Regions from separate parts of the Homo sapiens genome. Here all the other regions are reported to be linked to region 1. The links are microRNA targets in miRTarBase. Many come from high-throughput screens and were not tested one by one. Region 1 holds a microRNA gene; each other region holds the end of a gene's coding sequence.

What was found. Region 1 holds the annotated microRNA hsa-miR-6831-3p (UGACUAACUCCCACUCUACAG, at 2,051-2,071, opposite strand). A microRNA usually pairs through its seed, bases 2 to 8, with sites in the 3' UTR of a target mRNA and lowers its output. Matches are read on the target gene's strand: a 7mer-m8 pairs with bases 2 to 8, a 7mer-A1 pairs with bases 2 to 7 and ends in A, and an 8mer does both.
Region 2: the mRNA of CPPED1 is a reported target of hsa-miR-6831-3p. Seed matches in the 3' UTR shown: 7mer-A1 at 2,005-2,011.
Region 3: miRTarBase lists THAP1 as a target of hsa-miR-6831-3p. The part of its 3' UTR that is shown has no 7-base or 8-base seed match.

Annotation. Positions count from the first base shown.
Region 1 is chr5:140,561,621-140,564,620 of GRCh38, forward strand. MIR6831 (microRNA 6831) reads right to left here and starts at 2,131; the gene lies at 2,051-2,131. APBB3 (amyloid beta precursor protein binding family B member 3) reads right to left here and starts at 2,978. Exons shown (of 13, transcript NM_133173.3): 1 at 2,577-2,978; 2 at 2,132-2,295; 3 at 1,974-2,050; 4 at 1,043-1,103; 5 at 733-879; 6 at 480-607; 7 at 224-229; 8 at 1-81. The coding sequence starts at 2,625. RefSeq lists enhancers at 2,136-2,195, 2,804-3,000 and a silencer at 2,666-2,845.
Region 2 is chr16:12,662,293-12,665,648 of GRCh38, reverse strand. CPPED1 (calcineurin like phosphoesterase domain containing 1) reads left to right here. Exons shown (of 4, transcript NM_018340.3): 4 at 534-3,356. The coding sequence ends at 763. Among named protein-coding and RNA genes, the nearest start is that of SNX29-AS3, 53 kb to the right of the region's middle.
Region 3 is chr8:42,835,064-42,838,419 of GRCh38, reverse strand. It overlaps THAP1 (THAP domain containing 1), which reads left to right. Exons shown (of 3, transcript NM_018105.3): 3 at 84-1,746. The coding sequence ends at 458. Among named protein-coding and RNA genes, the nearest start is that of THAP1, 6.6 kb to the left of the region's middle.

The DNA of each region.
Region 1 (3,000 bases):
GCCTTGGCAGGGACATCACAGCAAAACACATGGCACTTGAGCATACAGCTATCTTTGTCACTTGCCACAAAAGCGAAGTCCCTAGCAGGGGCAGAGATGGGGCTGGGGTAGAAGCTGGTTAGAGGCAGGAGCCTGCAGGAGGCTGGAAAGTCAGGCTAGGGATATAGCAGGGATGGAGTAGGGACATCAGGGATGGGGCTCAGGATACCTGGTTTTCACTCACCTGTCACTGTTCCGGAAGCATGTGGGAGCACAGAAGGGAATCAGCCCAGCCTCTCGGACTCTCCCCAAACTGTCCCTGCTGAGCTGGGCCCACCCTCCCCAACCAGGGCTGGACCAGGCAGGGGAAGCAGTCCTGGGTCCACATCAGAGGATCTGTGTCCAGGGGTTCAAGTACTGGGGATCAGCATCAGTGGGGATCACAGCCTGCAGCCGGGAGGGAGAAGTAGCTCTTGCTTGGGGGATGTAGGCATCCTCACCGGCCCTTGGAGCTCCCCACGCCCCACACACGGATGTGCACCAGAGGCTGGCAGTGGATCAGACTGTGGTCCAGGGGATTCACTAGGCTCATGGCATCCTTCTTCAGGATCATCAGCATGTTCTGGCCCTGCCAAGGACAGAGGTCAGCCCAGAGCTCAGATAAAGGTCATTGCCATGAGAAATAGGAAATTCAGGGACAGCTACCTCTGCTGGGCCCTGGGCCCAAACCATTAAAGGGCCCAGCCAACTCACCTCACCCCAGGCACCATCTGGAGGCTGGCTCCGGCTGCGGGTCTGGGCCAGCTGCTGGATACAGTTATTGACTGCAATACTGCTCTTCCCCGGTGCCAGGTCCTCTTCAGGTACCTCTACCCAGCCCAGAGAGCGGACTGCAAAGCACTGACAGGTTGGGGGAAGGGACAGGAATTAATAAGGATGGAGTAGGGTGGCAGGTGCCACAATACATACTCCCTGTCTTCACCCTTGATCACCTCTGTTCAGTCCAATCCCACCCTTGTCTTTCCCTTGGGACCTCCCAATGCCCTCAGGCCCAAGTCACTACCTTAGCCCCTGGCTCCATGCTCTGGATGTAGGATTCCCCACCATACCAGGACAGAGAGTTACTGAAACAGAGCAGAGCTGTTAAGAGGACCACATTTCCTACAGTAGGGACACTGGTGAGGCCTAGACAACTTGATAAGCACAGGATGAGGGGCAAGACCCAGAATATAGCACCAGAAATATAAAACCAGAGCAGGGTAGAGCCCAGGACATATTAACGTAACATAAAGTGTGACTCAGAATTTGAGGGAAAATTCAGGACATAGGACCCAGACACAGGACATAGAATAAAAGTCACAAGGCTAGGTGCAGTGGTGGCTCACGCCTGTAATCCCAACACTTTGGGAGGCTGAGACGGGTGGATCATGAGGTCAGGATATCGAGACCATCCTGGCCAACATGGTGAAACCCCATATCTACTAAAAATACAAACATTAGCTGGGCATGGTGGCATGTGCCTGTAGTTTCAGCTACTCAGGAGGCTGAGGCAGGAGAATGACTTGAACCTGGGAGGCGGAGGTTGCAGTGAGCCAAGATCGTGCCACTGCACTCCAGCCTGGATGACAGAGTGAGACTCCATCTCAAAAAATAAAAAATAAAAGTCACAAAATAGAACAGGGTCCAATATGTGGACCAGAACCCCAAAGTGGGACAAGAGACCCTAGAACAGAGGACTTAATGGCCAAGGTCTAGAACATGATAGGTTAGGACCAAGAATATGAAAAACATGTAGCTACAAACAAGAGCTTAGAACAAGGGATAAAACTCAAAATACTGACAGTTAAGAACCTGGGACAGAGCCAAGAACGTAACAGAACCCAAAACATGTGACAGAATCCAGAACCTGGGCTGGAAAGCAGACCATGGGTCCAGCTGCATTTTTGAACACCATGGAACCCCAAGCCTTTCATTTTGCCTGGGCCACCCGTTACCTCCGGTCCAGTGAACTCTCCAGGCTGGAGAAGGATCTCCCTTTGGGGGGCCGCAGTCCCCAGATCCCCTCCGTTCCCTGTAGAGTGGGAGTTAGTCAGTTTAACAGCAGACCTAGGTCCACACATGGGCTCAGACCTCCTCCTCACACTCTACCTACCGTGCCTGGGTCCTCTGCATCTCCTAGTTCCCAGGTTGGGCGCTGCCACTGGGTGCTACCGCTGGGTACATGCCAGTAGTAAGTACCTGCAGCATCGTGGATCTTCCTCCAGCCAGGAGGCAGGCCAGCCTCCACCTCCAGACTGTGGTCCCCCCACAAGTCATCTACAGGAACACCGGATTAGAGAGGAGGGAGCATATGATTTGTGAGTTCAGAATAACATGCTGTCATAATCCCCTCTCCATCCCCAAAATGGGTCAGTTCTTAGGCTGAAGATCCAGGCTCCTCAATCTTGAAGACATCACATGTAAAGACCGGGTTCATTCGCCCCCTGGTCCCTACACAGAGAGGTATCCCCCACCGTCTTTGAGCCCCAGAGTAGCCTTTCGGATTCCCTCGTCCTCCCTCAGCTCCTGGTCTTCCCACCGGGCCCCTCCGTGCACACCATCGCAGTTGACCAGAATGATGGCCAGCATGTAATCCTTGCCCAGCATAACCCCGGCTGCTCCCCGCCAGCCTCTGCCGGCCCGCACTCTCAGCCCAGCGCGACCTCTGGAGCTACTGCGCCTGCAAGCCCAGCCTCTCTGCGCCGCAGGCTGCGGGGCCAGCTGGCGCCGCACAAATACGGGGCGGGACACGGGGCGGGACACGGGCCGGTCCCGGGGGAGGGCCTGAGCCGCACAGCCCGCCCAGGGGTGGTGCGTGTAAACGGGCGTCTGGATCCCCGAATGGTTGCGTGTTTCCGTGTGTGGGTCCGGGGGAGGCCCACGAACGCCAGCGAAACCGCTGACACCACCGCCCAACTATGAACTCATCAGGCGCCTGAAGACCGACACGCCGAACATGCGCCGCGCGCACTCGCGCACGAG
Region 2 (3,356 bases), not on the chromosome of region 1:
CATTTTTTTTTATATTTTTGGTAGAGACAGAGTTTCATCATGTTGGCCAGGCTGGTCTCGAACTCCTGACCTCAAGTGATCCACCCATCTTGGCCTCCCAAAGTGCTGGGATTACAGGCATGAGCCACCATCCCTGGCCATAAATGTTATTTTTAAAATACATAACTTTTGTCATCTGGATATTTCTATAGGACTCAGGCTGTTTTCTTCAGTCTCCTTTGTCTTTTCTCAAAGTCATTCACTTCATCTTCCTTCTCTCATTTTCTTCCCTAGTACGTCTTTGTACAAGTTATGACAAACATGTTAATAATATATTATATATATGAAGTATCCTTTCAAAGATTCTGGACATCACATACGCTTTCTATTTGTTGATTATATACAGAATAATATTATACATTTAATATGATAATTCTACATGATGGTATAATAATATATTTAATATATTACTGTTCACAGAATAAAATGCTGGAGACCCTAGGTTACCTAATGGAAGTCCTCGGCCCCCTAATGACTTTTTCCCTTCTCTGCAGGTGTCAAAGTCGTGTTCTCAGGCCACTACCACAGGAATGCCGGGGGTACCTACCAGAACCTCGACATGGTGGTGTCATCTGCCATTGGATGCCAGCTGGGCAGAGACCCCCACGGGCTCCGAGTCGTGGTGGTCACCGCCGAGAAAATTGTTCACCGATACTACAGTCTAGATGAGCTGAGTGAGAAAGGAATAGAAGACGATCTCATGGATTTGATCAAGAAAAAATGACGCTCCTTCCCGTTCCCGTTCACTTTTCACTTGCACTATTTTTTTATTTTGCCAGAAACAGCAGCTGCACACAACCTCTTGCTGAAATATAAAAATAGCCCAGGCAGGTTTGTGAATTTATGTCCTTTTGCATAAATCAGAGAGCTGGGGCCCTGTCCTGAATTATATTCAAAATAGAACTGCATTTCCTTTAAAATGGAGCGAATGATCCTGGAAATCAGTTTTTAAAATATTAGACTATCTCTGCATGGATGTTTGAATAAATTCTCCTAATGCTGTGTTTCTCAACTCCACTTTTGAATTGGATTGTATTCTGGTTAGCATATGGTCAAAGTCTGCCTATCGACCTCAATTCCAATCTGACAGCCAAGTATGATCTTTGATAATTCCTTAAACAAACTACACCTGATTGTATTAAATTGTGGTCACGATTCCCAAAACGCTAGGCAAAACAAAGTTCATCTCCTTTCCTTTCCAGCGGAACGAACAGCTGTCTCCCTTGTTGTGAGAGCCATGCAGACTTATTTTGACAAGGAGCCAAGTAGGCACCATTTACTGTTCAATTCTGAGACTTCTGATGATAGGAACAGAATGCAGTTGATACAGCTCGGAGCTTAAATTTGCCTTCCTGGGTGCCTAGAAAAGTCACCTTTGCACATAAATTGGCCATTTCTGAAAATCTCCTCCAAGAGACTGAAACCAAAGCTCTAAAACGCCGCTTCTTCAGTCTCTGGGGAGCACGTTGAGTTGGTTCACATCCACATTCTGGCTGTGTAGCCACTCCACAGATGGGTGGTCTCTTGGGATCAGAATGCCCCTCCACTCATGAGACTCTTCATTTTGTCCACTTTGACAGGAAAAGTGGGAATGTATGCAGAGCTCTCAAAAGAAACAAAAAAGGCCAAAACGGTGCCTTCAGCCACATCCTCTGAATTGGCCCTGACTTGGACTAAATGCACTAATGCAAAATCCCTTGACAAAAGCGCATAGGTTATTTCAAACCAGCATTGTTTTTTATGTAACCTGTTTTACCGCATCTTCTCAGCAGCTTCTGACCACTGCTCAATTTTCTCCTTTACAGCCATTGTTCTGGTGGACAAATAACCTAGGTACTCCAAATCCTGGCAGGAAAAATATACAGCATTATGAAACAGCACTCAGTAATCCTAAAATGATTTCCAAAGCTGGTTACACATGACCTGCAAAGTCTATTAAATTAAAAGACTTTCTCATTACAGAGTTTAGTCAACGTAGCAAAACCATGGGAAATTAAATGGAAAGATAATTAAATATGTAAATTCATAAGGAACAAAAGACGAGAAGTTAATTATACAATAGGCTGGTGACACCAGAGTTCATTGTTATGTGCCACAAGAAAATTAAATTTTTTAAAAAACTAGAACGCTCTTCTTTTAGTGTTTTGCTGAAATCCTGTTTTGTATTTGTTTCTTTACAACAGGTGTAGGTATAGGAGGTCAAGAAAAGGAGTTCGGTAAAGGGCATAGCTAATAACAACCACACATTGGGCCAGGCACAGTGGCTTACGCCTGTAATCCCAGCACTTTGGGAGGCTGAGACGGGCAGATCACCTGAGATCAGGAGTTTGAGAACAGCCTGGCCAACATGGTGAAACTCCATCTCTACTAAAAATACAAAAATTAGCCAGGCATGCTGGTGCACACCTGTAATCCCAGCTACTCGGGAGGCTGAGGCAGGAGATCGCTGGAACTCAGGAGGCAGAGGTTGCAGTGAGCCAAGATCATGCCACTGCACTCCAGCCTGGGCAACAGAGCAAGACTCTGTCTCAAAAAAAAAAAAAAAAAACCACACACACACACATTGAGACTTGAGATGTGGTGACACTTGGATCATAAACAGAGGGCTTCGATTCCAGGATGGGGGTTCCTCCAGGGGGAAATGAAAAGGAGCTCTCACTCTGTTCTTACGTATGCACAATGCTCTGAATTGTGGCACATGGGTTTGCAGAAGGATAATGGAGATAATTGAAAGTAATGAAAATGAAACCAAATCTCCTTCCCCAAAAACTTAAAAGAACTGATTCAAAAGTACCCCAAGAATATGCAAAGAAAAGGGAATCACATCAACAGATGATTGGATAAAGAACATGTGGTATGTATACATAATGGAATACTATTCAGCCACTAAAAAGAATGAAACCATGTCTTTTGCAGCAACCTGGATGGAACTGGAGGCTGTTATCTTAAGTGAAATAACTTAGAAGTAGAAAGTCGAATACTTCATGTTCTCACTCATAAATGGGAGCTACATAAAGTGTACCCATGAACATAGAGTGTGGAACAAACATTGGAGACTCAGAAGGGTGGGAGGAGGGTAAGGGATGAGAAAGTACCTGATGGGTACAGTGTACACTTTTCTGGTGTTGGTTGCAGGAAAAGCCTGGACTTCACCACTTCGCAATATATCCGTGTAACAAAACTGCACTTGTACGCCTTATATTTATACAAATTTAATTTTTTAAAAGGGAAGAGAGAATCATATTAATTTCTCACCACTTTTTAAGTAAGCAAACAGCAGTATTTCCCAGAGGCAAGAGGTTCAGCAAGAAGTCAGG
Region 3 (3,356 bases), not on the chromosome of region 1:
GCCACTGCGCCTGGTCAGTCCACAGATTCTTTTAAACTGTTTTTAGTTACTAAATTCAAACATACTTTGTATTTTTGTTTTAGAAAGAAGATCTTCTGGAGCCACAGGAACAGCTTCCCCCACCTCCTTTACCGCCTCCTGTTTCCCAGGTTGATGCTGCTATTGGATTACTAATGCCGCCTCTTCAGACCCCTGTTAATCTCTCAGTTTTCTGTGACCACAACTATACTGTGGAGGATACAATGCACCAGCGGAAAAGGATTCATCAGCTAGAACAGCAAGTTGAAAAACTCAGAAAGAAGCTCAAGACCGCACAGCAGCGATGCAGAAGGCAAGAACGGCAGCTTGAAAAATTAAAGGAGGTTGTTCACTTCCAGAAAGAGAAAGACGACGTATCAGAAAGAGGTTATGTGATTCTACCAAATGACTACTTTGAAATAGTTGAAGTACCAGCATAAAAAAATGAAATGTGTATTGATTTCTAATGGGGCAATACCACATATCCTCCTCTAGCCTGTAAAGGAGTTTCATTTAAAAAAATAACATTTGATTACTTATATAAAAACAGTTCAGAATATTTTTTTAAAAAAAATTCTATATATACTGTAAAATTATAAATTTTTTTGTTTGTAATTTCAGGTTTTTTACATTTTAACAAAATATTTTAAAAGTTATAAACTAACCTCAGACCTCTAATGTAAGTTGGTTTCAAGATTGGGGATTTTGGGGTTTTTTTTTAGTATTTATAGAAATAATGTAAAAATAAAAAGTAAAGAGAATGAGAACAGTGTGGTAAAAGGGTGATTTCAGTTTAAAACTTAAAATTAGTACTGTTTTATTGAGAGAATTTAGTTATATTTTAAATCAGAAGTATGGGTCAGATCATGGGACATAACTTCTTAGAATATATATATACATATGTACATATTCTCATATGTAAAGTCACAAGGTTCATTTATCTTTCTGAATCAGTTATCAAAGATAAATTGGCAAGTCAGTACTTAAGAAAAAAGATTTGATTATCATCACAGCAGAAAAAAGTCATTGCATATCTGATCAATAACTTCAGATTCTAAGAGTGGATTTTTTTTTTTTACATGGGCTCCTATTTTTTCCCCTACTGTCTTGCATTATAAAATTAGAAGTGTATTTTCAGTGGAAGAAACATTTTTCAATAAATAAAGTAAGGCATTGTCATCAATGAAGTAATTAAAACTGGGACCTGATCTATGATACGCTTTTTTCTTTCATTACACCCTAGCTGAAGGACATCCAGTTCCCCAGCTGTAGTTATGTATCTGCCTTCAAGTCTCTGACAAATGTGCTGTGTTAGTAGAGTTTGATTTGTATCATATGATAATCTTGCACTTGACTGAGTTGGGACAAGGCTTCACATAAAAAATTATTTCTTCACTTTTAACACAAGTTAGAAATTATATCCCATTTAGTTAAGTGCGTGATTTATATTCAGAACAACCTACTATGTAGCGTTTATTTTACTGAATGTGGAGATTTAAACACTGAGGTTTCTGTTCAAACTGTGAGTTCTGTTCTTTGTGAGAAATTTTACATATATTGGAAGTGAAAATATGTTCTGAGTAAACAAATATTGCTATGGGAGTTATCTTTTTAGATTTAGAATAACTGTTCCAATGATAATTATTACTTTTATATTTCAAAGTACACTAAGATCGTTGAAGAGCAATAGAACCTTTAAGACAGTATTAAAGGTGTGAAACAATGGCATTCAAAGTGTCTTTTGTAGAACTGGTTTTCATTGTAGTTCACTGCCATGCTGCCAGTGGATAGCACTGTGATTCATGCATATTTGATGTTTTATGAACCAGTATCTCAAAAATAGAAATAATGATTAGAAGATTACTTGAAGTTGGGCGGGGCGCCATGGCTCACGCCTGTAATCCCAGCACTTTGGGAGGCCGAGGCGGATGGATCACAAGGTCAGGAGTTCAAGACCAGCCTGGCCAATATGGTGAAACCCCGTCTCTACTAAAAATACAAAAACTAGCTGGGCATGGTGGCGAGTGCCTGTAGTCCCAGCTACTTGGGAGGCTGAGGCAGGAGAATTGCCTGAACCCGGGAGGTGGAGGTTGCAGTGAGCTGAGATTGCGCCACTACACTCCAGCCTGGGCAATAAAGCAAGACCCCGTCTCAAAAAAAAAAAAAAAAAAAAAAAAAGATTACTTGAAGTTACATAGTCTGATAACATCATTTAGAACTCATGCTGATCAGTCAGAAGGCTTTTACAGATTATTCATGGAACTCGAAGCTACAAAGTATTCAAGAAGTTTGGTTTTATATGTCATCTTTCTAGCAATTCCTGGAAGTACTCAGGAATATTTAGATTTATTCCTGAATATTTTGAAAAGTATATACCTTCGGCCGGGCACAGTGGCTCATGCCTGTAATCCCAGCACTTTGGGAGGCCAAGGCGGGTGGATCACCTGAGGTCAGGAGTTCAAGTCCAGCCTGACCAACATGGAGAAACCCTGTCTCTACTAAAAATACAAAATTAGTCAGGTGTGGTGTCGCATGCTTGTGATCCCAGCTACTTGGGAGGCTGAGGCAGGAGAATCGCTTGAACCTGGGAGGCAGAGGTTGCAGTGAGCGAGGGCGGTGCCATTGCATTCCAGCCTGGGCAACAAGAGCGAAACTCCGATCTCAAAAAAAAAAAAAAAGAAAAGTATATACCTTCAATCTAAGTACTCTTCTACATAAAAGACAAATTCTATGTGTGTGTCCCAGAATGAAGAATCCAGGTAAGATTATAAAAATGGAAATCATAATTACTTAGCATATTAGCATTATTATTTAACCTCAAGCTACTTTCTTTTCATAACAGACATAAATCCCCATTTGGAGAGAACTGAGCAAGCAGCATGTACACCAACTGCTTTCATTTAAATAATTTATCATAGTAAACAGAAGTTTGAGGTGCAGGTACTTATTTCTGAATTGGCTATTGTTTATAACATTGCCAAGAAAAGGAGGTCATTTAGGTAAAAATAGGTTCTGTTCAGGCATAGTAAACAGTCTGACATAAACAGGGACAAAGACTCAATTTTTTTTTTTTTGGAGAAGGAGTCTCGTTCTTGTTGCCCAGGCTGGAGTGCAATGGCGCTATCTGGGCTCACTGCAACGTCTGCCTCCCGGGTTCAGGGGATTCTCCTGCCTCAGCCTCCCGAGTAGCTGGGATTACAGGCATGCGCCACCACGCCCAGCTAATATTGTATTTTTAGTAGAGACGGGGTTTCTCCATGCTGGCCAGGCTGGTCTTGAACTCCCGACCTCAGGTGACCAGCCTGCCTTGGCCTCCCAAAGTGTTGGGAATACAGGCA